Linked DNA regions of Homo sapiens. The protein of the gene in region 4 interacts with the protein of the main gene of each other region in a biochemical or structural test. Each region holds a gene or a part of one and is shown on either strand. Other genes may lie near its edges. The genes, in order: ARHGEF11, ARHGEF12, ARHGAP21, RPS6KA1, PTPN3, RADIL and GRID2IP.

Region 1 (3,403 bases), about 130 Mb from region 4:
TGGTTACAGTCTTGGTGATGTGGCTGCGTCTGTGGGAGGATGTGGATGGATGATGACAGTGATGAACTGGCCAGGCCTGAGGCAACCCTCCCACTTAGATTTGGCTTTTAAAGTCTTCAAGCTCATTGAGGGCAGCTCATGAGACCTCTTGACTCTGGGTCCACTGCTCCTTTATATACACATATATGTGTATATATATGTGTGTGTGTGTGTATATCTATATATGTGTGTATATATATGTATCTATATATATATCTGTGTGTGTGTAACTGAGTTCAGTGTCTTGTCATGTTTTCTCCATGGGGGTTGTACAACTTAAGTTTGCCCAGTCCCTAGTTCAGTGAGTGCACAGCTGAAGCTCTGGGAGGGAACAGGCAAGATCTGGGTCTGGGGGTGAGAGGGCTCCCTCTGGTTCCCACTATCCAATCCTAACCAGTCTTACAGGGAACAAACACCGTACCTTTTATCACAGCGATTCCAAGAAACACACACACCACCACTGAAGGATATTTAACTTTTCTTAAAAAAAAAATCTTAACCATGAAAGGAAGAAAATAAAAGAGTATACATTATCTTAACAGCAGAACAGTCATTTCCATATCTATATTTTATATATTATATATATATTTATATATATATATATGTATATATACACCTAGCACAGTGTGTATATTCTATTCATCAGGGAGAGTTGGGTGAGGACGTGGTGATGGGGCCAATGCTGCGGTGGCCCCTTGGATGGTCCTGGGTGAATTCAGGGACTCGGCATTCAGACCCCTGTCCCCACCTCCTGGGGCCCAGTCCTCAGCTCCGTACCTGCTTCACTGGTTTTCTACAGGGACAGGGTGGGGAAGAGGGGGACATAGGTGGGGTAAGAAACCCCCATGATCCCCATCTTGTGAAGATGAGAAGTCCAGGGAGGGAGGGAGTAGCTTGGCAGCAAGCTGTGGAGGGCAGGCTCTGGAGCCAGGTGGGATGGGGAGCCAGAAGACCTTCCCACTCACAGGGACAGGAACACTCAGGCCTGGCTCCCGCTTTAGGCTCGATCCTGGAACTGGGTTGTTAACTAAGGAGATACAAGTGAAACCCCTCTTCCCTAAGCAGCTCCTTCCATAACTGCCTCCAGCACTTCAGGAACAGGAACAAAAAAGGTCAAAGTTATTTACAATAGCAAAGATGCACATACGATACATACATATTTATAGGAAACCAAAGTGACAAAGAGGGGAGGGGAGGCACCCACCTCTGCCTGGGGTCTTATGGAGAAAGAGGGGAGGAAGAAAGTGCATTTACACAGAAGCCTCCTCCTTTCACTTGCATGTCTGAGGGCAGCGCACATACAGGCGTGCGCGTGTACACACATATGTGGGGTGAGGGCAGACCATGGTGAGTGGGGGCCTTTCGGATGCAGTCAGCATGCTTAGGAGACATGAGGCCTTGGAGGGTTGGGCTAAGGGAGGGAAAAGACACTGAAACCTGACTCCGACTTGAGCAGACCAAGCAACATGCGGGTCTCCCCCCGGGCCTTGGCTGGATCCTAGTTTCCCTAACTGCCTCCTCCACAGGGAGGAGTGTTGGGATCCCCCCTACCCTGTGCCCCGGTCTCAGGCCAGTCCCTGAAGGAGGAGTGGGGACGCAGAGGATTTGGTGGTTTGTACGGTTATGGTCCTGGTGACGCGGCTGCGTCTGCTGTGCTGTCTTCCAGGGGGGCGTCAGAGCCTGTGGGAGGAGGATGAAGGTGAGGAACTGGCCAGCCTGAGGTGACCGCTTCCACATGTTTTGTCTAGAAAGTTCAGGCTCACGAGAACAGATCCTTCATCACCTTCCTTCTCCTCCAGAAACCCCAGTTTCTCGTAGGGCTTGAAAAGGGCTGTCTACTGAACTCCACTTTCATCAGCGCCTAAAGCCCTTAGGTCAGGTAGGTATGTGCCTTGTCTTCCTGAGTTATGACATAGCTGTGTCCCTGGCCCACCCAGTGTGGTTCTGAATCATTTAATCAGCACGAGTCTTAGGCCGACACCATGGTGTGCACCTGCAATCCCAGCTGCTTTGGAGGCTGAGGTGGGTGGATCACTTCGGCCCAGGAGTTTGAGACCAGCCTGGGCAACATAGCCAGGCCAGCCCTTGTCTCAAATAAATAGAAAAAAAAAAAAAAAAAATATATATATATATATATATATATATATAAAATTAAAAAAAGAACAAGTCTTAGAGGTGAGAACAGGCTCCTCCTGGTTTGTTACCTCCATAGCACAAGGAAAAAGAGGGCTCAGTGCTAAGCTCCCCATTTTGCCAGGGAGCTTCTGTGGGACTTCCCTAAAAAGATCCCTCTCTGAAGCTGAGAGAATGAACTCGTTTCACTCAAGGGGAAACCACTCTCAGAACCACCATCTCTCACTGCTTAGTGATGTGTCCTCACGAGTTGGCAGACTTCTCCCCCAATGGTAGGAACCGAGAGGGACCTGGCTTCACTCACCATCCTCAGGGCAGGGCCCCAGTTCATGGCTGTTCCTGGAGTCAGAAGCTAGGGGCTCCTTAGCGGGAGGTGAGAGGGAGCCATCTGTCCATCTAGCTGCTTCTGTGTGGAAACTGCCCACAGGCGTGGTGCCACCAGATGACTCTCCCCCAAGGGACTTGAGCAGCTCTCTGTGGGCCAGCTCCATATCCTGGAAGAGTCGGCGGGGGAATGTCTGCTCGAGTCCTTCTATTCCTAAGGCCCCTGGGGAAGGGGTCTGTGCTGGGCCTTGGGGAGGAGGGTGTGATTTAAGGGTGGCTGGGCGGGCTGGGGGAAGATCCCTGGGCCAGGACAGGATCTAGGGCTCCCGCGAAGACACACATCTCACTCATGGGGAATGGTTTTGGGGTGATGGACTGAAGGCCTGCAGGGACCCAAGCCCTGCTTCCCTCACCTTGAGCCTGTTGAGCTTGAGAGTGAGCTGCTCAATGGTATGGAAGATCATGCCCACGTCCCTGAGGGCCAGGCTTGGAGGAGAGCGGCTGGGGCGTCTTGGATCATCGTTGCCTCCCTGCAGCTGAGGCTGAGGCTCTGTCTGCCCTGCAGGGAGGCTGTCAGGCTGAGGGGGGCTCATGGGTGCCTCTGAGTGGTCGGTGCTTGAGTCCGGGGGTCCTGATGGCATGCTGACATAAAAGCAGTTCCCTGTCCCCACAGTAAGAGAATGAGATCAGGAGGCAAACAGAGAAGTCGAAGCTATCCTCCCGTTCCTGTGGGATTCCCCAGCCACCTGACAGAGCAGGCCAGGCAGTCCTCTCCAGACAAACTCAGAGAACGTGGGCCTTGCTCACTGTCTGCCAGCCCCCTAAAAGCCCTGCTCCCGAGACCTTCTAGATGACACTTGCTCAGTCTGGCCCCAAGCTGGGGGAGATGCTGAGCGATGAACTCAAG
Region 2 (3,500 bases), on a different chromosome or scaffold from region 4:
CAGTGTATGTGCTGGTCTGCAATTTTTAGGGTCAATCACGGCCCCGTGTGGAAAGAGCTGCGGCAGTGAAGTCAGAGGACGTGCTTCTGGAGCTGGTGTGAGCAGTTCTGCCTTCACCATATCTTTTTCCACTCCACCCTTGGCTATCCTTTTGACTCAGGGCCCTTTGGCACCATCAGTGCAAAAATTAGAGTCAAACCTCCAGGTACTAAAATTTTACTGGCCTTATAATCAGCAGTACCTGTGGCTAATGATAGCCATGATTCAACTCAGTAGTGATTCAGTTAGATAACCTTCCCAAACTCTTTACCCACTCCCATCCCACCCTTTCCTTAGCAACCCCCACCCCTGCCACTATCCGAAGCATTTCCATTTGTTTTTACTTCCTGCTCAATCTGCAGGGACAGTTTTACACAAGTGCCAATGTCTAATGTATAATTATAAAAATGAAATGATACCAAGAATAACAAATTTATAGTCAAGAAAATAAAATTTGCTTTCCTCTCCCACCCAAATCCCAACCCTCAATAGAAAAGACGACAATGGAAGAAAACACACCCATTTTCAAGTGCCTGCTATTTAGTATGTTGAGGATTCCTATTAATTGTGGTTGATCCCAGCTACAGAGAAGAGGTGCTTGCCTCAGGGCGGGAGGAAGCCCATCCACTCTCTGACCACACCACCTGGGCACATAAGAGCCACACGGCATAGCATACCTTTGAGGTGACCCTCAGAGAAGCAGCCTACTGGACAGCAGAGAGCTTGGAATACTGTATAGTGAAGCAAGGTGCTCCTCCCTTCCCCGTCTCACTTCCTCCTCTTCTTAACCTCTCTACCCAACTTCTGCATACTCCATCCTGACCTCTTTGCTTCAGGAGCAGTTGATCCTTGGGTGTACTAAAGACAAAGGTCTAAAACTCTCACTACTCAATTAAAACAAAACAAGGCAAATAAAAATTAAAATGTGCTTTCAAATACGGAATGAAGTCAAATAAATACATCTGATTTTCTCTTTTTCTTAAATCTAAGTACAATTTCATATCCTACACCCAAAGCTCTATACATTTGGTTTTTATTCTGAATCAAAATGAATTTCCGATAGTGAGGAGAGTAGAGTGAGGGAATGGATATTCCCTCACAAACAGATTAGTGCAGCTGCCACACTGTGAAGAACTAGTCCCACTCTGGGCACCTTGGGACTTGACTAATCCCAGGTGGTTCACAGGCAGATCCTCTGTCACACTCTCTCTGCATCCACACTGGAGCCAGGATGTGGTGAGACACGGCCGATACTCCAAATCCAACAACCTGCAGTCACCTCCAGGACATGCGGCTCTAACTTTTATCTGAGAAGAATAAAGATACATGGAAATGATATTAAGAAAAAGAATATACTAACATTGCAAAGAATACCCATGACATCTGTGGGCGTGGTTCAATCTTTGTTTCTGAATCAGTATGTAAGCAGATGAGTATAAACTGCTGCAGGGAACACAAATCCATCTGCAGTCAGGGGAGACACCAGCCACACTGTCAGCAGAGGCAAGTGCACCAACATCCAATAAGGCCAAATCCTCCACACTAGGGAGTCACAGCAGTACCAGTAAGCCTCACACCGAATCTGTGATTTACCAGGCTTCCCACTGCTCTGCCTTCTGCTTTGAAAAGGTGAAAAGAGAGAGAAGAGGGGATGGTATGGGAACTGACAACTGCAGTTCCTCTTAGAGAAGAGTAGAGTCAGCAGGCATGAGCTTCCGCTTGATATCTGATGTTTAGAAACAGGCAGTTCTTTAAAGACAGAAGAGAAATGGAATCTCAGAAGGTTTTCACTTCAAAGTATGATAAGTCATTTCATTCAGTGTAGGATGATTAGTCTAGAGTCTGGAACTCATAACTTTTACATACCTGAGTGCTTGTCTGTGAGGGCTGATCCAGCCAGCCTTTGGCAAAGAATGGTGTAACTTTCCTCCACCTTCTGTGAAATAAAACCCATAGGTTTTTTATTCAAACGTAATGAAACAAAACAAAACAAAAACTTCAGAAAACAGAAAAGAAGCCCTTTTTACATTACAGGTACAAGCCCCCAAATTTCAAAAATATTAACTTCATCATTAAAAATTTCATTAGTGGGAAGAAAAAAGTAAATTTCATTCCTTTTACCAATTTCTCCACTGAAGGAATAACTTAGTATTTTCCCATGTAAAAAGAAAGTAGAGGTGGTAACCATAGATGCAATTCTCCCACCCCCAGGAGTCACCCTGGACATGGTCCCGTCATCATGTGCATGAGCTATAGTCATGCAGCACATAAAGACATGGCGGCCTGCATACATGATGATGGTCCCTTAAGATTATTATGGGTGGGGCATGGTGGCTCACGCCTGTAATCCCAGCACTTTGGGAGGCCGAGGCAGGTGGATCACCTGAGGTCAGGAGTTCCAGACCAGCCTGGCCAACATGGTGAAATCCTGTCTCTACTAAAATTATAAAAATTAGCTGGGACTGGGCGCGGTGGCTCACGCCTGTAATCCCAACACTTTGGGAGGCCGAGGCAGGCGGATCACGAGGTCAGGAGATCGAGACCATCCAGGCTAACATGGTGAAACCCCGTCTCTACTAAAAATAAAAAAAATTAGCCGGGCATGGTGGCAGGCGCCTGTAGTCCCAGCTACTGGGGAGGCTGAGGCAGGAGAATGGCGTGAACCTGGGAGGTGGAGCTTGCAGTGAGGAGAGATCATGCCACTGCACTCCAGCCTGGGCGACAGAGCAAGACTCTGTCTCAAAAAATATAAATACATAAATAAATTAAAAGATAGAAAAAAATTAGCTGGGTGTGGTGGCGGGCACCTGTAATCCCAGCTACTCAGGAAGCTGAGGCAGGAGAATCGCTTGAACCCGGGAGGCGGAGGTTGCGGTGAGCCGAGATTGCACCATTGCACTCCAGCCTGGGTGACAGACCGAGACTCCATTTAAAAAAAAAAAAAAATTTATCTGGGCATGGTGGTGGTGCCTGTAGTCCCAGCTCCTTGGGAGGCCAAGGCAGGAGAATCGCTTGAACCTGGGAGGCAGAGGTTGCAGTGAGCCGAAATAGCGCCACTGCACTCCAGCCTGGGTGACAGAGCAAGACTGTCTCAAAAAAAAAAAAAAAAAAAAAAGATTATTATGGAGCACATGTAGAAACCTGGTGTGTGGCACTTAATAATGGCATTGCTGATCAGGTAGGGGAAATGACTAATATTCAGTAATAGTGTTGAGAGATTTGGCTTTCCATATGAAAAAATCTATGTAAATAAAGATATATTCTATCTAGGTTTGTGTAAGTACACTCTGTGAAGTTCACACAAAGATAAAAATGCCTAATGATGAATTTCTCAGAATATATCCCCATTGCTAAGCAACACATGACTGTATATAAGAACCGACCTGTCCTCAATGGGCTTGTCGATATCTCATCAGCTACAGAATGATACTACATAAAATAAGTAACATGAAGAGGGAAAA
Region 3 (3,500 bases), on a different chromosome or scaffold from region 4:
AGAAGTCTTACACTGTGATTTTAAAATGTTTCTAGTGAATCTCATAAGCTGTGCTTCAACCAGAGCTTTCACAAACCTCTTTAAAAGTTATTTCTAGTACCAATTTTCCTTTTTTTAAAAAAAAAACAAAAACTTCATGTACCTAGTACCCATTTCAAATTTTTATTTTGATGAAACAAATTCCTGAGATTAAGGAAATCAGCGAAGCAAATTATACCTAATTGTTGATTCAGGTGAATGAAAAACCAAGTGGAACAGTTTTGATAATTAGTTACCAACCTTTCATTTAAACAGTGCTTTTACTTTCTAAAACATATTTCTTTGTAAATTTAACGTGTACTGAGAGAAAAGACCTCTTCATTGTCAAGTTAGTTTGCCATACTATAAATCCTGGAACAGATTTAGAGAAGTTACTTAAATTATAAGCGTGTGCCACAGTTGCCGGCACCTGTCCTGTTGAGTCTTCTGTCTGCTCCCTCCCACCCCAGATCTGTTCTCCATACAGCAGCCAGTGTGATGTTTTTAAAAATGTCAATTAGATCACACCACTCCTCTGTGCAGAACCCTCTGTTTCCTTCCCATTCATCTCACCCAAAATAGCATGCAAAATCCTCCCGTGATCTGAAAGGCCCTCCATGGTCTGCCTCACAACTCCCTCTCTGATGGTGTCAGAGAGATCCTACTTCGTGATCTCCTATCACAATCTTCCATGTGCATCCCATCTGCAGCCTCACCAGCCTCCTTGCTGTCAGGTGTGTGTTGCTACAGGGACAGGTACAGCTGGTTTCTAACCCTGGTATACATTCCACAGATAGTTAACAAGCCTCTGTCTTCCTCATGACATTTGGGTCTCTGCTCAAAGATCTTATCCAAGCAGGCTTTGTGACTCACCTATCTAAAACAGGTATCCCACGCACAGACACAGAAACGGACATTCTCTTCCCTTAAGCTTTTTTATTTATCTTCGTATTACTGTTTCCACTTGACATGTTTTGTTTTTTTGTTACATGTTTCTCAGTAGAACTAAAACATAAACTACATGAGAGCAGAGATTTAAAATCTTTGGTTCACTTTTGTGTCCCTAATGCCTAGAACACTGCGTGGCACATAAAGAATTCACTCAGTAAGTATTTGTTGAGATAATGGCTGAAAGACAATTTTGAAATGCTGGTTAAATGTATAGCACAACAATACAGTTCTCATCATGACTGTGCAGCTCTAAAACATCATCTGCTAACAGGTGATGACTTATGTCCTTAATATTATCTTCATTTTATAAGTGAGAAATTTAAGGTATAGAGAGGCTAAATAACATCTCTAAAATCGCATAGTAAGTGATAAGAGACAGGGTCTCTAGGTTTGCCTCATTCAGCCTCGTCCCAGAGCACAGCTCCAGGGAGCACGCCATTTATATGGAATGCCTGTGAAGAGCGCCCCCTGGAGGCATGCGATGCAGGGGCTTTTTTCCTTCTCTTTTTGCCACCAACCAAGGCCATACTTGTAGTCCCCCTGGTGTCCCATGGGTTTATGAAAAGAGTTCTCCATCATTTTACAATATAATATGCTTCTCTTTGAGTACTAGTTGAGTTTTTCTTTTCTACGGGAACATTTTTAAAGCTGTTGAGGACTGTTGTTTCTTTTCTACGGAAACATTTTTAAAGCTATCAATTGTAAAGCTATTGATAGCTTTAAAAATGTTTCTTGAGAAAACACTTAATTGGATAGGTGACACTAAAAGCTTTTTTAAAAAGTTCCACACAGCTTATGTTTTTTTTTATAAATCGGATATATTCAAGTTGTCAACATTGTGGGGAATCTCAACCTAAATTGTACCCATATTCATATCTATACCCCTAAGGCCAAGCTCAGCAAATAGTAGACTCCTGTTGTAGATGGAATCTTATACATCATCTAGAATAGATATTTTATAGAAGGCAACTGATGACGAATGATTGTTTTATGAAGTTTTAAAATGTAAAAAAATCTTACAACCTGTGGCTGTTTCACAGGCCCATGCGATCTTATCAGAACAGTGGCATCATATTTTCTTCCTACATAATAACAACAATATAATCAGATTACATTGGAGTAGTAAAAAAATGTGCTGGATATATCTGTTAATATTTCTTCCTAGTTATGAAGTATAGAAATAAAACAATTATGTTATTAAAGAGAAGATTTTGGCTAAAATAGAAAATAAAGATCTGTATAATTCTATATACATATAGATTGATGTAAATAAATAATTTTATTTACTAAGAATAAAAGTACTCTCTAATTAGTTCCTATCTTATTTGACTTTCGCCCTCCTTCCCCCGCTGCTCACCTTCTGCTGTGCGGCCCAGCTCCTAACCGGCCATGGACCAGTACCAGTCTGCAGCGCAGGAGTTGAGGACCCCTGCTATATACTAAGGTTGCAGGAGGCATACAGGCATACAAAACAAAATGAATACATTTTGTTTTTAAATTTGGAATATTACTCATTAACAGTATTTTGTTTACTGTTCCCACCCCCCACTTTATAAAGCTGCATAGTAAGTCCTGAAAATAAATTTCAACTTCTTTTATAAGTAAACACAAACCTCAACAATGTGAGCTGTTCATGAGTAATCTCACGGTGAATAGCAGATATTACAATGTGTTCTAAAATCCTGACTTCCTACACTTCTCTAATTTATACCACTCATTACTAGTAATACAAAAATGCTACGACTGTTACCTACACTCAGGGTTTCATCTTAACTTTCTTTCTCCATAGTTTTGTCATATCTCTTAAGACTCCTCCTCCATCTTACCCCAACATTGGCTGCGTGTGTGCTCAGTTGAGGGTTAGCCCTAAGTTAAATTGAATTTGATGGTCACAGCCTTATTGGCACTGCCATATCAAGATGATTTAGAAGTGTTAGATTTGGTAAGATATAGCTGGATTACATTGTCCATACAGGGGAACTTAGCTCCCTGAAATTTACCCAAAGGGAAGAGGTGACCATTCCCTATACCCAGTTTCTCCCTTTGGGAGCTCTGGGCTCAGTGCCAGTGGTGATATGACAGGACGATGCAATGAGCACCCAGCCCTTCTTTAATACTAATTCAGGCTGAGTCTTAGCAAATAGTCTGTTTATAAAGAGAAATCATATACTTTATCATCTTACATCTTTTATAAAGAGAAATCATGTACTTATCATCTTTATATGTCTTTTTCATATATTGGCTTTTCCCAAAAATGTGATGCCATTGGTACTTAAGCTTAGAGATTTTTGCTTCCACTATTTGAGTAACGATGTGAGGTAATTTAAAAAATAATAAAATAGTCCGGGTGCAGTGGCTTGCGCCCGTAATCCCAGCACTTTGGGAGGCTGAGGCAGTCAGATCACTTGAGGTTGGGAGTTCAAGACCAGCCTGGCCAACACAGTGAAACTCCATCTCTACAAAAAAAAATACAAAAATATTAGCTGGGCGTGGTGGGGTGCCTGTGAGCCCAGCTACTTGGGAGGCGGAGG
Region 4 (3,500 bases):
GGTTACTGTGATGTCCATCATTTCCCAAGCCCTTTGCTAAATATTCCTGTCCTTCTCTATAAGCCTGGGGTTGAATACTATTATCAGCCCCATTTTACAAGTGAGGAAACTGAGGGCTACAGATGTTAAATGTCGTGCCCAAAACCACACAGCTGTGAGTGGATAGTAAAGCCAGGATTCACACCCTGGCCTGCCCGACTCCTTCCTGTGACTGGAATCCCAACTCTCCTGGAGGTCACGGCCTATTGCTCCAGTGCCTGCATTTGGCCTACACATATATTTTGTTTGGCCTGCAAGATAAGGGGTGTTTTTTGATTTGAGGTATGGTTTAGTAAGGTTTGGTAATTTGGCTGCTTTTAAAAACACTGGGTCCGAGTTGCTATGTAGTGACTGTCAGCTGGAGCCAGGTAGCTGCTGTCCTCTGTGGACTGCTTGGAGGTTCCCACTCTGCCTGGCTTCACTCATTACTTGCCCAGCCTGTTGTGATTTTCCATGCGGTGAGATGTGAGACTATACTTTTCCTCCCCCAACATACACTCCTGAGGGTCAGGTATCAGAATCACCTGTGGGGCTTTTTAAAGCTGTACTTCCCCTCCCCCACTCACCATCCCTACTATTCTGCCACTGGCAGTGGTGAGACAGTTTCCTATAGGAATTTGTAGTTTCTCTATGTTGTATTAGGGTAGGAAAAAAGATCAACAACTTGAGCCGGGCGTGGTGGCTCACGCCTGTAATCCCAGCACTTTGGGAGGCTGAGGCAGGTGGATTGCCTGAGGTCAGCAGTTCGAGACCAGCCTGGCCAACATGATGAAACCCCATCTCTATTAAAAATACAAAGAATTAGCTGGGCATGGTAGCAGATGCCTGTAATACCAGCTCCTTGGGAGGCTGAGGCAGGAGAATTGCTTGAGCCTGGGAGGCAGAGGTTGCACTGAGCCGAGATCACGCCATTGCACTCCAGCCTGGGCAACAAAAGCAAAACTCCATCTCAGAAAAATAAATTAATTTAAAAAAAAGGTCAACTTCCATATCCCTGTGTCCCAGTAGTGTCATGTGTGCCACACTAAACTGGAAAGACTATGGAATTCAGGTCAGAACTGGGTTCTGGTCTTGCCTCTGCCTCTAACCTACATGCAAGTGAGTTGTCCTCTCAGGCTGGGCGTAGTGGCTCACACCTGTAATCCCAGCACTTTGGGAGGCCAAGGTGGGAAGATCACTTGAGGCCAGAGTTTAAAACCAGCCTAGCCAACAGGGTGAAACCCTGTTTCTATAATACAAAAATTAGCCAGGCATGGTGGTGCACACCTGTAATTCCAGCTAACTGGGAAGCTGAGATATGAGAATTGCTTGAACCTGGGAGACGGAGGTTGCAGTGATCCAAGATTGTGCTGCTGGCGAGACTCCATCTCAAAAAAAAAAAAAAGAAAATTGTCCTCTCAGAGCTTTGGTTTTCTCCTCTGTAAAATGGAGCTAATAATTCCTGTCCACCCGCCGAGGTGCAGTGGATGGCTCCAGTGAGATCACGACTGGTAACATTCTTTGTAAACTGGAAGTTCACTTGTGCAGGGTAGTTGGTGTCCTCAGCCAAGCTGAGCATCCCTGACCTCTAGGTAGAGTCCACATTCCTGGGGGCCTGGCCTTGTGCTGTGGGCATACGATTGTGTTTGAAGGAGGGAGCCCACGGGACTTTCTCCAAGGCTTGGATACAGTGTGTTGCTGGGGCTACCCTAACAGTGTGGCCCTTTCCCCCTCATCTACCTGGCACTCTTCTCCCTATGGAGGTGGACTGTGCTGGGCCATGTCTACCTACTCCACGGGCTCCACGGGCATTGCTGGAGGGCTTGGAGATCAACTGAGACTATGAAAAGACTATCTGAATAAAACCAACTAACCTGCAAAACTCTACTAATCTAACCTGCAAGGTATCTGTCTCTGTGTTTCAGAGGTGTGATTTGTTCATTCATTGCACAAAGTTCACTTAGCATTTGCTCTGTGCTAGGCCCTGCACTGGGTGCTGAAGGTGAACGGGCATTCCACAGACATAGGGTTATGATCGTTACCGAAGGAGCCCCTGGTGGCCTGAGCTCAGGGCACCTGAGGGATGCAATGGACAGTGAGGCTGGAACAGATGATGGCTGTGCCTCCCATGTTAGGGTAGGGACTTTGGGCTTTATCTTGCAGGTAGGGAGCCTTTGAAGGTTTTTTGACAATGCCCAGGGAGGTTCCATTAGCTTAGGGGAGGAGGAGCAGGAAGATGAGAACATGAGGAGTTTAGTGTGGGATGTGTTGAGTTTGAGGCTCTGTGGAACATCCAGTGGTTGCCTTGTGGTAGGCAGTTGGATTTATGAGCCAAGACTCAGGAAAAGTTCTGGACTAGGGTTAGAGATCTGAGAGGTATTGGTAGTTGATAGTTAGAGGATTGACTATGAATGGAACTGTACAGGCCAGGCACAGTTACTCACACCTTTAATCCCAGCACTTTGAGAGGCCCAGGCAGGAGGATCACTTGAGCCCAGGGGTTCAAGAGCAGCCTGGGCAACATAGCGAGACCCTGTCTCTGCAAAAAATGTTTTAAAAATTAGCTGGGTATGGTGGCACATGCCTCTAGTCCCAGCTGCTTGCGAGGTCGAGGTGGGAGGATCACTTGAGCTCAGAGATTGAGGCTGCAGTGAGCCATGAATCATGCTGCTGTACTCCAGCCTGGGCAACACAGACCCTGTCTCAAAACAAAACAAAACAAAAAAGCCTTACAGAGTGTGGGGAGGAGAAGAATGAAATGTGGGGTGGTTCAGCCCCCTCAAGTTACAGATGAGCAAACAGGGCCCAGAGGAAAGCCGTTTGCTTATGGCCTCAGCAGTAAGTGTCATTCATCCATTCATTCAACAGATATTTATTGAATACCTGCCATGTACTAGGAGCTAGTTTAAGTGCTGGGATACAGCAGTGAGCAAAACACTCAGGGAGCTTACATGCCGGTGGGCAGACTCAGAAAACAAATTAAATATTATGTTAAGTAGTGGGAAGTGCTACAGATAAAAGTAAAGCAGTGTATTCTTTGATTTTAAAGATAAGGAAAATAGGGCCAGGCGTGGTGGCTCACGCCTGTAATCCCAGCACTTTGGGAGGCCGAGGCAGGCAGATCACTTGAGGTCAGGAGTTTGAGACCAGCCTGACCAACATGGTGAAACCCCATCTCTACTAAAAATACAAAAATCAGCCAGCCATGGCGGCGGGTGCCTGTAATCCCAGCTACTTGGGAGCTGAGGCAGGAGAATTGCTTGAACCCGGGAGGCGGAGGCTGCAGTGATCTGAGGTCGTGCCACTGCACTCCAGCCTGGGTGACAGAGGAAGACTCCATCTCAAAAAAAAAAGACTTTTAAGATTTTGACCTAAGTAACAGGAAGGATGGAGTTGCCACAAGGTAAGATTATGTGATGAGTAGGTTTTAGGGGAGAATTGAGAGTTCAGTTTTGACAGGTTAACTTAGAGCTACCTGTAGA
Region 5 (3,500 bases), on a different chromosome or scaffold from region 4:
GGGAGGCCGAGGAGGGTGAATCACTTGAGGCCAGGAGTTTGAGACCAACCTGCCTGGCCAACAGGGTGAAACCCATCTCTACAAAAAATACAAAAATTATCTGGGTGTGGTGGCACACAGGTGTGATCCCAGCTACTCAGGAGGCTGAGGCAGGAGAATTCCTTGAACCCAGGAGGCAGAGGTTGCAGTGAGCTGAGATCACGCCGCTGTACTCCAGCCTGAGCGACAGAGTGAGACTCTGTCTCAAAAATAAAATAAATTTATTTTATTGTTTTTAAAATAATATCAAGTAATTTTTTCGTTTAATTTTTTTATTGTGCATACTCAAGGTGTACAACATGATGTCTTGTTATACATATAGTACTGCAGTCAAACAAATTAACATGTTCATCACTTTCCATAGTTAACCTATTTTTCTTTTTTAAGAGACAGGGTCTCGCTCTTGCTCTGTCACCCAGGCTGGAATGCAGTGGTATGATCACTGCAGCCTCAAACTAGGCTCAAGCGATCCTCCTGCCTCTGCCTCCCAAGTCGCTGAGACCACAGGTGTGTCCCACCTCACCTGGCTCCATAGTTACCTTTTAATCATCTGCTTTTTTAAAGCAGTAGGAGTCACTGTGCCTCCTTACAGTGAACCACGTTGGGATTTTACTCTGAGGTAGTCCTTAAGCTCTTGTCATTTAACTTTTGTTACTGTTTACAGTTTCTGTAAATTCAGAAGGCTTTCTTTCCTGTGCTGTTCAATTCATTGCTTCTCTCCATAATGGTTTTTGCCTCTGTTGTGAAGCTTACAAAAGCTTTCACCTTTGCAAGACAGATAAATACTCACCTCTAGCTGGCAAATCATTTCCTAACAGTACATCTAGGAAACAAAAGGCTGGAAATGGTATAGTTATATTATAATAAGTGAAGGTTGACTACCACGGAGAAATGGCTTCAGCAATTTTTATATCCTTATTCTGAAATGTTTCATAACTTATATTCTGAGCAGTACTTCTTTATATCTTACAACCATCTACCATGTCCACATAGCAGTGGATGCATTATACAAATAATGACAGTACTACCCGAGGGAGAGAAGGCAAACTTGATCATGGTCCCAGGTGTCTGGGAGCAGAGCGAGTCAGCGTTCTTCCCCCAAGGACTGTGTTATGGTAACAGGAGAAACTCGCTTTTCCCCACCACCCAGGCGGACACCTGCATTCCTAAGCTGAACGAAGGGGATCAAATCGTGTTAATCAATGGCCGGGACATCTCAGAACACACGCATGACCAAGTGGTGATGTTCATCAAAGCCAGCCGGGAGTCCCACTCACGGGAGCTGGCCCTGGTGATCAGGAGGAGAGGTAATGGCCACCTGGGGGGAGGAGCCATAGGGAAGCTGTCCTAGCCAAGCTGCGCCTGCTCCAGCCCTTTATCTGCTCTTGAAAATGTTGAGTTTGTAGCCAACATTTGAAAATCAAGAATCTTCAGGTAATAACCGAATGTTTGGCTTCTCACTTGAAAAATGTGAAGATCTGCCCCCAGGAGGCCTGTCCCCATGTGGCCAGTCTTCTGGGGGGAGACAGCGCCCCTGCAGCCCCTTTATACAGGACATGAGCCCCCAGCTCCCAGTTCCTCCCAGGCCCAGCGCAGCCCACATCACGCACTCTCTAAGTGGCATGACTCTGCAGACATTTGCATTTTCAGCCCCTTCTTAAAGGATCTGGTGATATTTTATTCGTGCGTGTTTGATTTTGTCGGGGAGGCAGTGAGGAGAGCAGGGTCTGACTGTCTCGGGTGATTCCTCACTCTGCCTCTGCGGGCTGGGGGACCTTGCAGGGGTTACATAACCAGTCTGTGGTTCAGCTGGCTCAGGTGTGGAGGAGGACAGCAGTGGTCCCGACTTCACAGGGTTGCTGTGAAGATTAAATGGCACTTGGGGCCAGGCACAGTGGCTCACACCTGTAATCCCAGCACTTTGGAAGGCCAAGGTGGGTGTATCACTTGAGGTCAGGAGTTCAAGACCAGCTTGACCAACATGGTAAAACCTCATCTCTGCTAAAAATACAATAGCCAGGCATGGTGCCATGTGGGTATAGTCCCAGCTACTCAGGAGGCTGAGGCAGGAGAATCGCTTGAACCCAGGAAGTGGATGTTGCAGTGAGCTAAGACTGTGCCACTACACTCCAGCCTGGGTGACAGAGTGAGACTCCATCTCAATCATTCAATCAATCAATGGCACTTAGACTGGAAAGTACCTGCATTGCTGCCTGATGGGAGCAGAGGTTTGAAGGACAGCCTCTACTGAGCATCACACTGTTGTCTTTATAGTTGTTGTTATAAAATAATACGTCAAGTTCCTTGAACACCGTGCACAGCTGTAAAATACTGAAAGTAAATGAAGGTTGTGTCTGCAAAGCCCTGCGTCTCTGCCTGCCTCACACGTTTGGCTGACACTCCATACTGCTGTGCTCCTGCCTCGGCTCTGCTCCCACTGCAACTCTCAGTCCAGAGCCACCAGGACCAGCTCTGACCCCACCTCCTCCGTGAGGCCTTACCAGATCTCTCCGGTTCCCCACCTGTGCAAGGTTGGGAGTTGTGGGGGGGTGGTCCTAGCTTTGCTTTCACCTGTATTGAATTTAACATGAAGGGAAAACGTGCACTAAAGAGGTAAGGCTGAAGCACAGAAGAGATGCTAGGACTACGATATTTACGTGGGAGCCTCCCACATAGAAACGGCCCTGAGTTAGGGATTGAGCTCTCAGGAATGATGGTGTCACAGGAAAAGCTTGGGACCTCACCCTCATGCCTGAGGAAATGCCCATTTTAGGGAAGTAAATGAAAAAACCTGAGAAAGAAAGGGGAGTCGGGATGGGTAGAAGAATAACCCGGTCAGAAAGAGCAAGCAGAAACAATATGCTTTTTTAAATAACATTCTTTCTCTTTTCTTTACCTTTGACAAAAGCCTCTGAGTGTTAAACACCATTATTTAAAACTAACCAGGAAGATTAGTATGTCATTTTATGTAATTAACACATATTGAATCATTCACCTAGAAGTAGTATCTTTGGTGAAAATGATTACCATGTAGCTTAATCATTTAATAAGATGTTTTGAACCATCTGCATTCAGGTGTCATAGGTGTGATTTGTTTGAGGGAGACGGATAAACCTGAGTATTGCTACACAAGTCAGATGCACTGTCTTGTACGTTACAGCTGTCCGCTCATTTGCTGACTTCAAGTCTGAAGATGAACTGAACCAGCTTTTCCCCGAAGCCATTTTCCCCATGTGTCCGGAGGGTGGGGACACTTTGGAGGGATCCATGGCACAGCTAAAGAAGGGCCTCGAAAGCGGGACGGTGCTGATCCAGTTTGAGGTAAGACCCTCTGGAGGCTGAATCCCACTGCCATGTCGCCTATTGGGCTGCCCCTGCCTCTGAGCAGTGGAGGAAATGAGGCAGAGACACAAGCCCTTGTTTCCTTGGTCGAGATGATTGTGTGTTTCACAAACCAAAAG
Region 6 (3,500 bases), on a different chromosome or scaffold from region 4:
TTGAGCACATACACCAGGCTGTCCTGAAACAGAGACTCCGCTCAGGGCAGGCGTAACGCGAGCAGCACACGGGAAAAGCGTCCCGTGTCTAGTCACTGGTTGCTGAAGCAGCGTGGCTGGGATGCTGTCGCCACGGGCTCTCCATGTCCCTGGCCACCCCCACACCAGAACCCCGACGGCTCTCAGGAACCCGCCCCTCGATGTCCGGGCCCATCCCAGAGGAGGTCGGTTTCCCGGAGGAGCACACGAGAGACCCAGGAGACACCCAGCTTTGAGACAGCGACAGGCCAGGTCAGGGCTGGCCGGGAAACAGGCACTGGTTCTACAGACCGGGCCAAGGACTACATAACTTCCCCCAAGTCATCCCCAAAACTGTGTGGGAGCACTGCCGCCTGTGTGGGAGCACCACCCCCAGTGTGGGAGCACTGCCGCCTGTGTGAGAGCACTGCCCCGAGGGAAGATGCCACCTAAAACCTGGGCACAGGAGCCCTATGGCTGTAAAGTGCTCATGGAAATGAGCAGCAAAGGAGCTGGCTGCACAGGAGGGCGGGGGTAGGGTGAGCAGGGGGCGGGGAAAACAGTTGTCTGGCAGGGCAAGTGTCCGGCAAGGTGAGGCGAGGTGGCCCTGCGCCTGGCATTTGCTCGGGGCGACAGCCTGCCTGCTCTGATGGAAGTGGTGAGAAACGGCTCTGGGCAGATAGGGGTGGCATGGGCCTTTGCTCGGTGCCCCTTCAGAGAATGTGGCCACCAATTGGTGACTCAGCAGCCCCCTCGCCAGAAGCAGGAAGCAGACTGGCCCTGGCCAACTGCCCATGCCCTTCCCCAGAGCCAGGCGGGAGACCAAGGCTGGGAAGGCGTGAGGAGTTCTCCCTGAAGGCGCCTGGTGCTGAGGGCACCCACTCTGGGATTGGGGAAGTGAGGAGCCCCCACTGCCGCCCACCGTGGCCTGGACAGGGAAAATGTGGATGACTCCACATGTGCCCCCGCCATCCCACTCCACAGCCTCGGCACAGCCAGAGGGGCTGCAGCCACAGAGCTCGCGGCCGACTGGGCTAAAGGCAGGCGGAGGCCTTGACTTCTGAGTCCCGCCTGCTGTCCCTGCAGTGGCACCGGGCAGTGGGTGTCAGGAGGGGAGGCTCACGTGCTGCTGGCTGTAGCCCTGCAGAAGGAGCAGATGCGGGGACTGGTACAGCGAGTACCGCATGGCGTCGGGGCCGGGCTCCTCGGGGCCCTGGGCGGCAGCGGGCAGGGCGTTCACTGGGCTCAGGCTGGTCTCACTGACTGTGCGGCGCAACCGGGGTGGAGGAGAGCTCCGGGCATCCCCCAGGGCCGGGGTCGGGGTTCCCTTCGCGCGACTCCGCTGCAGCCTCCGGGCCTGGGCGTTTATCCCTGGAACAGAAGCAACACAAGGTGAACAGTTAGAAGTCTCATAGCACCAGGACTGGGCGCGGTGGCTCACCCCTGTAATCCCAGCACTTTGGGAGGCCGAGGTGGGGGGATCGCCTGAGGTCAGGAGCTCGAGACCAGCCTGGCCAACACAGTGAAACCCCATTTCTACTAAAAATACAAAAATGAGTTGGGCGTGGTGGTGCGCATCTGTAATCCCAGCTACTCAGGAGGCTGAGGCACGAGAATGGCTTAAACCCAGGAGGCGGAGGTGGCAGTGAGCTGAGATTGCACCACTGCACTCCAGCCTGGGTGACAAGAGCGAAACTCCATCCCCCGCCAAAAAAAACAGGTAAGTCTAATAGCGCCCATGTCCCGGGTCCTTCTGAGTTCAAATCCCACTAAGCCACGTCTCCTAATGCCGTTACTGTTCTGTCAAAACAGGTCTGGTGGAGACTCAAGGACTCTGCCCTCTAGCCACGCCCCTCGAAAAACCAGACAGTGCCTTGGCACCACCGTGGCACCCACAGAACAGTCTCAGAGCAGGCAGCCTGCCTGTCAAATCCTCAGGCTGAGGGGACCACGCCTCCCCTGCAGCAGCCCAGGGTCACACCGCGGCCTGCCCGACCAGCCAGCACCACGGCCCACAGGCCTCAAACCACAGACGTTTTCCCACGGCAGCCTGGGCCTCTGCAGGGTCACCACGCCGCCTCCAGAGCCCTGCCCCATCCATCTGTGCACCAGGCGAAACTCCCCTGGGGGTGGTGCTCTGACGAGACGAGACGGACTGGTCAGCATCCTGCCCCTACTTTACAAGGAGGAGGTGTCACTGTGCCACATCACCCCAGCCCATGGGGCTGCCGATGGCCTGCTCCTGCAACAGCATCGCTGCCTCCTTCCCAAGGCTGTCTCTGATACCCCCAAGCCAAAGCAGGCACACACACAAACACACGTGTGCATACACATGCCCACAAATACACATGCACCCACACAAAAATGCACACACACATGCACACACATGCACCCAAAAACACACATGCACACACATACACACACGCCAACACACATGCACCCACACACATTAACACATACATGCACACAAACATGCGCACAGTTCAGAGATAACACACACCCTTAGAAGACTTAATATCTCATAAATACAGACACGCTCTCTAAATGCATGCTCTGGGAAAGCCAGCCGGCTGCGATAGATGAAAACCGCTCACCAGTCCCCAGCTGACCCGGCGCTGTCTTTTCTGAGCCCTCTGCTGAGTTCCCTGTACGCAGCCTTTCAGGTTAAGATCCATCCCCATCTGTGGCGGCCTTTCCTCCAACCATTCCCAATAAAACCAAACAAAAGCCGGATGGAGGGAGGCGTCAGCTGGCTGAGGAAGACCCTTACCAGCGCCAGCAGCCCCGCCGTCCTTCCCAAGGCAGCCGGCAGCCTGTGCATCTGCAGCCCGCAGGGGGCCAGGGCGTGAGGGAGGCCGCCCAGCCGCAGTGCGAGGCTGCTGGGCTGGGCTGCTCACCACCCGTGCTCCTGCCGCCTGCAGAACCCGGCCCAGCCTGGCAGGCGGCAGGTGCCCAGCAGGTGGGGCCCAGTTCCCCTACCTCATCCCACCCGCCACTCCCACAAGCGTTACCAGCCCCACAGCTCAGCCTCATTGCACAACTATGGGGCCAGATCCGAAAGAAGAACAAAAACAGCTCCAAATGATGCTCCGGCCCTCAACTTTCTCCCAAATCCAGGGCCAGGTTGTAGGAGGTGACCTCAGAGTGACCTGCTGGAAGTCCCAGGGCCATGGGGCAGGAAGGGTTGCTTCTCCTCCTAGAGTCCCAGGGGCTCCCAGAGGACCTGGCCACAAATGCGGCACGGGATGTCCCAGGCCTGTGTCCCCTGGGGCTGCAGCCCCAGGCAAGTGGCTCGCAGCTGAGTGTACCCTGCTCCTCCAGGCAAGGCTCCACAGCCTCCTGAGGCCCAGGGCTGGGCTCTCTGCAGGTCGGAACCAATGCTGACACGCAGGGGCCACTCCCAGGGTCTCCTTCCTGGTGCTGGGTAGGCCTGCATGTGTGCAGAAGGGCCAGGCTGCCAGCCTCCAACGAGGGGCCGGAGG
Region 7 (3,500 bases), on a different chromosome or scaffold from region 4:
GGGACTACAGGCATATGCAACCATGCCCAGCTAATTTTGTATTTTTTTTGTTAGAGATGGGGCCTCACTATGTTGCCAGGCTGGTCTCAAACTCCTGGGCTCCATTGATCCTCCTGCCTCGGCCTCCCAAAGTGCTGGGATTACAGGCACGACCCACGGTACCCAGGCTACTTTCTTGATCCACAGCTGAGGTGAGGGTCACAGGGCCATGGGAGGGACTGGGACAACCCTGACCCTGATGGAGCAGAGAAGCAGCTCCAGGGCTGAGCCTGGGGTGGAGGGAAACACCCAGACAGTAGATGACAGAGGCTGGAGCCCTACCTGTGGTGACTGCTGGGCTGGGGCCTGGAGGGGAAGCCCGGGATTTGGACACGGTCCCCATCTTCCCTTTGAAGCTGCTGTTCAGTCGAGACTCAAGCTCTGCATAGACGGCTGACATCTGGAGGGAGACGGGGGAGAGTCCAGCCCATTCTGCTTCCCCTCGTAGCCCTAATGTGGTCCAGGCCTGGGTGGGCCGGGAGGCAGGGATATGCCCCAGCCTGAAGCAGCACAGGGACGCCTTGGCCTGGGTCTCCTGGGCCCAGTCCTATGGACCGTCCATTCCCTGCCCCCTACTGACCCCACGTGGAGGGCAGAGAAGGTCTCACCATCTTGGGGTTGGGGGTCTCAGGGAGGGACGTGCCGTCGCCTGCCTGGCGCTCGCCTGGGATCAGGGGAAGAGGCATCTCAGGGCACTCGCTGGGACCTACCGGGGAATAATGTCATTACCGTATCTGAGCTCTACGGCTCAGGCCCCGGCCCAGAACCAACATGCCCCGCAGACCCAGGAGGGCCAATCCTGAGCCCTGCTTAGCCCCATTCCCTGGGATTCCCCACCTCACCAAGCCCATTTTGCAGGTGGGAAAACTGAGCTCCATTCATACCCTCCCCCTGACACCAGCCTTACCGCAGCTGAGGCCGGCCTCCAGGCCCTGGGACCGGAGGCTGCGGCGGCACATGGAGGAAGCCCGCAGGGAGCTCCGCGGCTGGGGCTCAGGCGTGGGCTCGGACTCCAGGTCCAGCTCAGGCTCCGGCTCTGCTGTGGGACATGCAGGGAACATGGGGCCCTCTTGCCCTCTCAGCCAGACAAGGGACCTCCAAAACAGGGAGGGGAGGGCAGATGTCATCTGCACCAATATGCAGACCCCAAGCTACGGGGCCTGCCCTGCTTGCCTCCAGAACAGCTCTTGAGGGGAAGCCCCAGGGCAAGAAACCAGGTGCCAGGAGCAGCACCAGAATGCAGCACCAGAATGCAGCTAGCCTGAACTCAGGGGCCTAGCAGAGATCTCATGACAACAGCTTCCAGAGTCTCAACGCCCTGTGCTTGCCCCAGGCCAAGTCACTGCTGCCCAGAGAGGATTATGGGCAAAATAGAAGTGTTTTTTTTTTGAGACTGAGTTTTGCTCTTGTTGCCCAGGTGGGAGTGCAGTGGTGCAATCTCAGCTCACTGCAACCTCCACCTCCCAGGTTCAAGCGATTCTCCTGCCTCAGCCTCCCAAGTAGCTGGGATTACAGGTGTCCGTCACCATGCCTGGCTAATTTTTGTATTTTTAGTAGAGATATGGTTTCAACATGTGGGCTAGGCTGGTCTCAAGTTCCTGACCTCAGGTGATCCGCCTGCCTCGGCCTCCCAAAGTGCTGGGATTACAGGTGTGAGCCACTGCTCCCGGCCAAAATAGAAGTTTTTTGAGCCTACGCAGATATGTAAGGCATGTGTGGTCCAGCATGGATCCTGAGCTTCTCGCTAAAACCCTAGCAAATTGTGGGTCCCTGGGACTGCAGCTCATGGGCACACAAGGACCAGCAACTCTGCAGCGGCCCCTTCCCTTTCCTTCCTTTCCTTTCCTTCCTTCTCTTCCTTCTCTCACTTTCTCTCTTTCTCTCTTTTCTCTCTCTCTGTCTCTTTCTCTCTTTCTCTCTTTATTTATTCAGAGTCTGGCTTTCTCATCCAGGTTGGAGTGCAGTGGCACAATCTCAGCTCACTGCAACCTCCACCTCCCAGGTTCAAATGATTCTCGAGCCTCAGCTTCCCAAGTAGCTGGGACCACAGGCATGCACCACCATGCCTGGCTAAATTTTTGTATTTTTTTTTTTTAAGCAGAGATGGGGTTTCACCATATTGGACAGGCTGGTCTTCAACTCCTAACCTCAGGTGATCCACCTGCCTCAGCCTCTGAAAGTGCTGGGATTACAGATGTGAGCCACCACACCTGCCTTTTTTTCTTTTCTTCTTTTTTTTTTTTTTTTTTGTGACAGGTCTCACTCTGTCCCCCAGGCTGGAGTGCAATCAAGGCTCAGTGCAGCCTTGAATCCCAGGCTCAACAGATCCTCCTGCCTGAGCCTCCCCTGCAGCTGGGATTACAGGTGTGTGCCACCACACCCAGCTAATTTCAAATTTTTTTGCTATGTTGCCCAGGCTGGTCTCCAACTCCTGAGCTCAAGTGCTCCTCCCACCTCATCCTCCCAAGTAGCTGGGACTACAGGTGCATACCACCACGCCTGGCTAATTTTTTATTTTTTTTTTCTTTGAGATGGAGTCTCACCGTGTTGCCCAGGTTGGAGTGTAGTGGTGCGATCTCAGCTCACTGCAACCTCCGTCTCCCAGGTTCAAGCAATTCTCCTGCCTCAGCCTCCCGAGTAGTTGGAATTACAACTGCGTACCACCACACCTGGCTTATTTTTGTATTTTTAGTACAGATGAGGTTTCCCCATGTTGGCCAGGCTTGTCTCGAACTCCTGACCTCACGTGATTGGCCTGCCTCAGCTCCACAAAGTGCTGGGATTACAGACGTGAGTCACCGCGCACGGCCACCCCTGGCTGATTTTTAAATATTTTGAATATATGGGGGTCTTGTTGTGTTGCCCAAGCTGGACTTGGAACTCCTGACCTCAAGTGATCCACCCACCTCAGCCTACCAAAGTGCTGGGATTACAAGAGTGAACCACTGCACCTGCAGCGGCTTTCATAGCAGGTGCAGGATGCCTAGAACAGGGTAGAACACAGGCTTCGGCACACCTTCCATCCACATGACCTGCATGCTGAGTGCAGGGGTTTGTGGGCATTCGGAGGGCACGCTGAACAGACAGGTGGCAGCCACACATGGCACTGCAGGCCTGTGTGTGTGCAAGAAAGAGTACACTGGGAGCCCACCAGCCAGGTGGGATGTGGTCGTGTGCTCATGATCCTGGTGGTGGTGTTGGCATGTCTGGCAACCACGTGAGTTTCTTTCTTTTTTCTTTTTTTCTTTCCTTTTTTTTTTTCTGGAGGCAGTAGCTTGATCATAGCTCACTGCAGCCTTGATCTCCTGCACTCAAGCCATCTTCCCACCTCAGCCTCCTAAGTAGCCGGGACTACAGGTGTGCATCACACCTGGCTAAATTAAAACTTTTTTTTTTTTTGGTAGAGACAGGCTCTTGCTATGTTGCCCAGGCTAATCTTGAGCTCCTGAGCTCAAGTGATG

Evidence for each region.
Region 1: the proteins of RPS6KA1 (region 4) and ARHGEF11 interact in a test that uses a peptide from one of them, tested with the Homo sapiens proteins (2 studies listed by BioGRID and IntAct).
Region 2: the proteins of RPS6KA1 (region 4) and ARHGEF12 interact in a test that uses a peptide from one of them, tested with the Homo sapiens proteins (2 studies listed by BioGRID and IntAct, with this or other methods).
Region 3: the proteins of RPS6KA1 (region 4) and ARHGAP21 interact in a test that uses a peptide from one of them, tested with the Homo sapiens proteins (one large-scale study listed by IntAct).
Region 5: the proteins of RPS6KA1 (region 4) and PTPN3 interact in a test that uses a peptide from one of them, tested with the Homo sapiens proteins (2 studies listed by BioGRID and IntAct).
Region 6: the proteins of RPS6KA1 (region 4) and RADIL interact in a test that uses a peptide from one of them, tested with the Homo sapiens proteins (one large-scale study listed by IntAct).
Region 7: the proteins of RPS6KA1 (region 4) and GRID2IP interact in a test that uses a peptide from one of them, tested with the Homo sapiens proteins (2 studies listed by BioGRID and IntAct, with this or other methods).

Annotation. Positions count from the first base shown.
Region 1 is NC_000001.11:156,934,340-156,937,742, forward strand, and holds the end of ARHGEF11 (rho guanine nucleotide exchange factor 11), read right to left. Parts: intron 3,158-3,403; coding exon 2,910-3,157; intron 2,667-2,909; coding exon 2,477-2,666; intron 1,906-2,476; exon of another isoform or gene 1,792-1,905; intron 1,720-1,791; coding exon 1,661-1,719; 3' UTR 501-1,660; downstream 1-500. UniProt on the Homo sapiens protein: May play a role in the regulation of RhoA GTPase by guanine nucleotide-binding alpha-12 (GNA12) and alpha-13 (GNA13). Acts as guanine nucleotide exchange factor (GEF) for RhoA GTPase and may act as GTPase-activating protein (GAP) for GNA12 and GNA13.
Region 2 is NC_000011.10:120,482,913-120,486,412, reverse strand, and holds part of ARHGEF12 (rho guanine nucleotide exchange factor 12), read right to left. Parts: intron 1,976-3,500; coding exon 1,906-1,975; intron 1,347-1,905; coding exon 1,336-1,346; 3' UTR 1-1,335. UniProt on the Homo sapiens protein: May play a role in the regulation of RhoA GTPase by guanine nucleotide-binding alpha-12 (GNA12) and alpha-13 (GNA13). Acts as guanine nucleotide exchange factor (GEF) for RhoA GTPase and may act as GTPase-activating protein (GAP) for GNA12 and GNA13.
Region 3 is NC_000010.11:24,615,888-24,619,387, reverse strand, and holds part of ARHGAP21 (rho GTPase-activating protein 21), read left to right. Parts: intron 1-3,500. UniProt on the Homo sapiens protein: Functions as a GTPase-activating protein (GAP) for RHOA and CDC42. Downstream partner of ARF1 which may control Golgi apparatus structure and function. Also required for CTNNA1 recruitment to adherens junctions.
Region 4 is NC_000001.11:26,567,761-26,571,260, forward strand, and holds part of RPS6KA1 (ribosomal protein S6 kinase alpha-1), read left to right. Parts: intron 1-3,500. UniProt on the Homo sapiens protein: Serine/threonine-protein kinase that acts downstream of ERK (MAPK1/ERK2 and MAPK3/ERK1) signaling and mediates mitogenic and stress-induced activation of the transcription factors CREB1, ETV1/ER81 and NR4A1/NUR77, regulates translation through RPS6 and EIF4B phosphorylation, and mediates cellular proliferation, survival, and differentiation by modulating mTOR signaling and repressing pro-apoptotic function of BAD and DAPK1.
Region 5 is NC_000009.12:109,404,308-109,407,807, reverse strand, and holds part of PTPN3 (tyrosine-protein phosphatase non-receptor type 3), read left to right. Parts: intron 1-1,189; coding exon 1,190-1,346; intron 1,347-3,199; coding exon 3,200-3,360; intron 3,361-3,500.
Region 6 is NC_000007.14:4,835,217-4,838,716, forward strand, and holds part of RADIL (ras-associating and dilute domain-containing protein), read right to left. Parts: intron 2,235-3,500; exon of another isoform or gene 2,172-2,234; intron 1,390-2,171; coding exon 1,142-1,389; intron 24-1,141; coding exon 1-23. UniProt on the Homo sapiens protein: Downstream effector of Rap required for cell adhesion and migration of neural crest precursors during development.
Region 7 is NC_000007.14:6,509,962-6,513,461, forward strand, and holds part of GRID2IP (delphilin), read right to left. Parts: intron 1,079-3,500; coding exon 947-1,078; intron 746-946; coding exon 648-745; intron 440-647; coding exon 322-439; intron 192-321; exon of another isoform or gene 55-191; intron 1-54.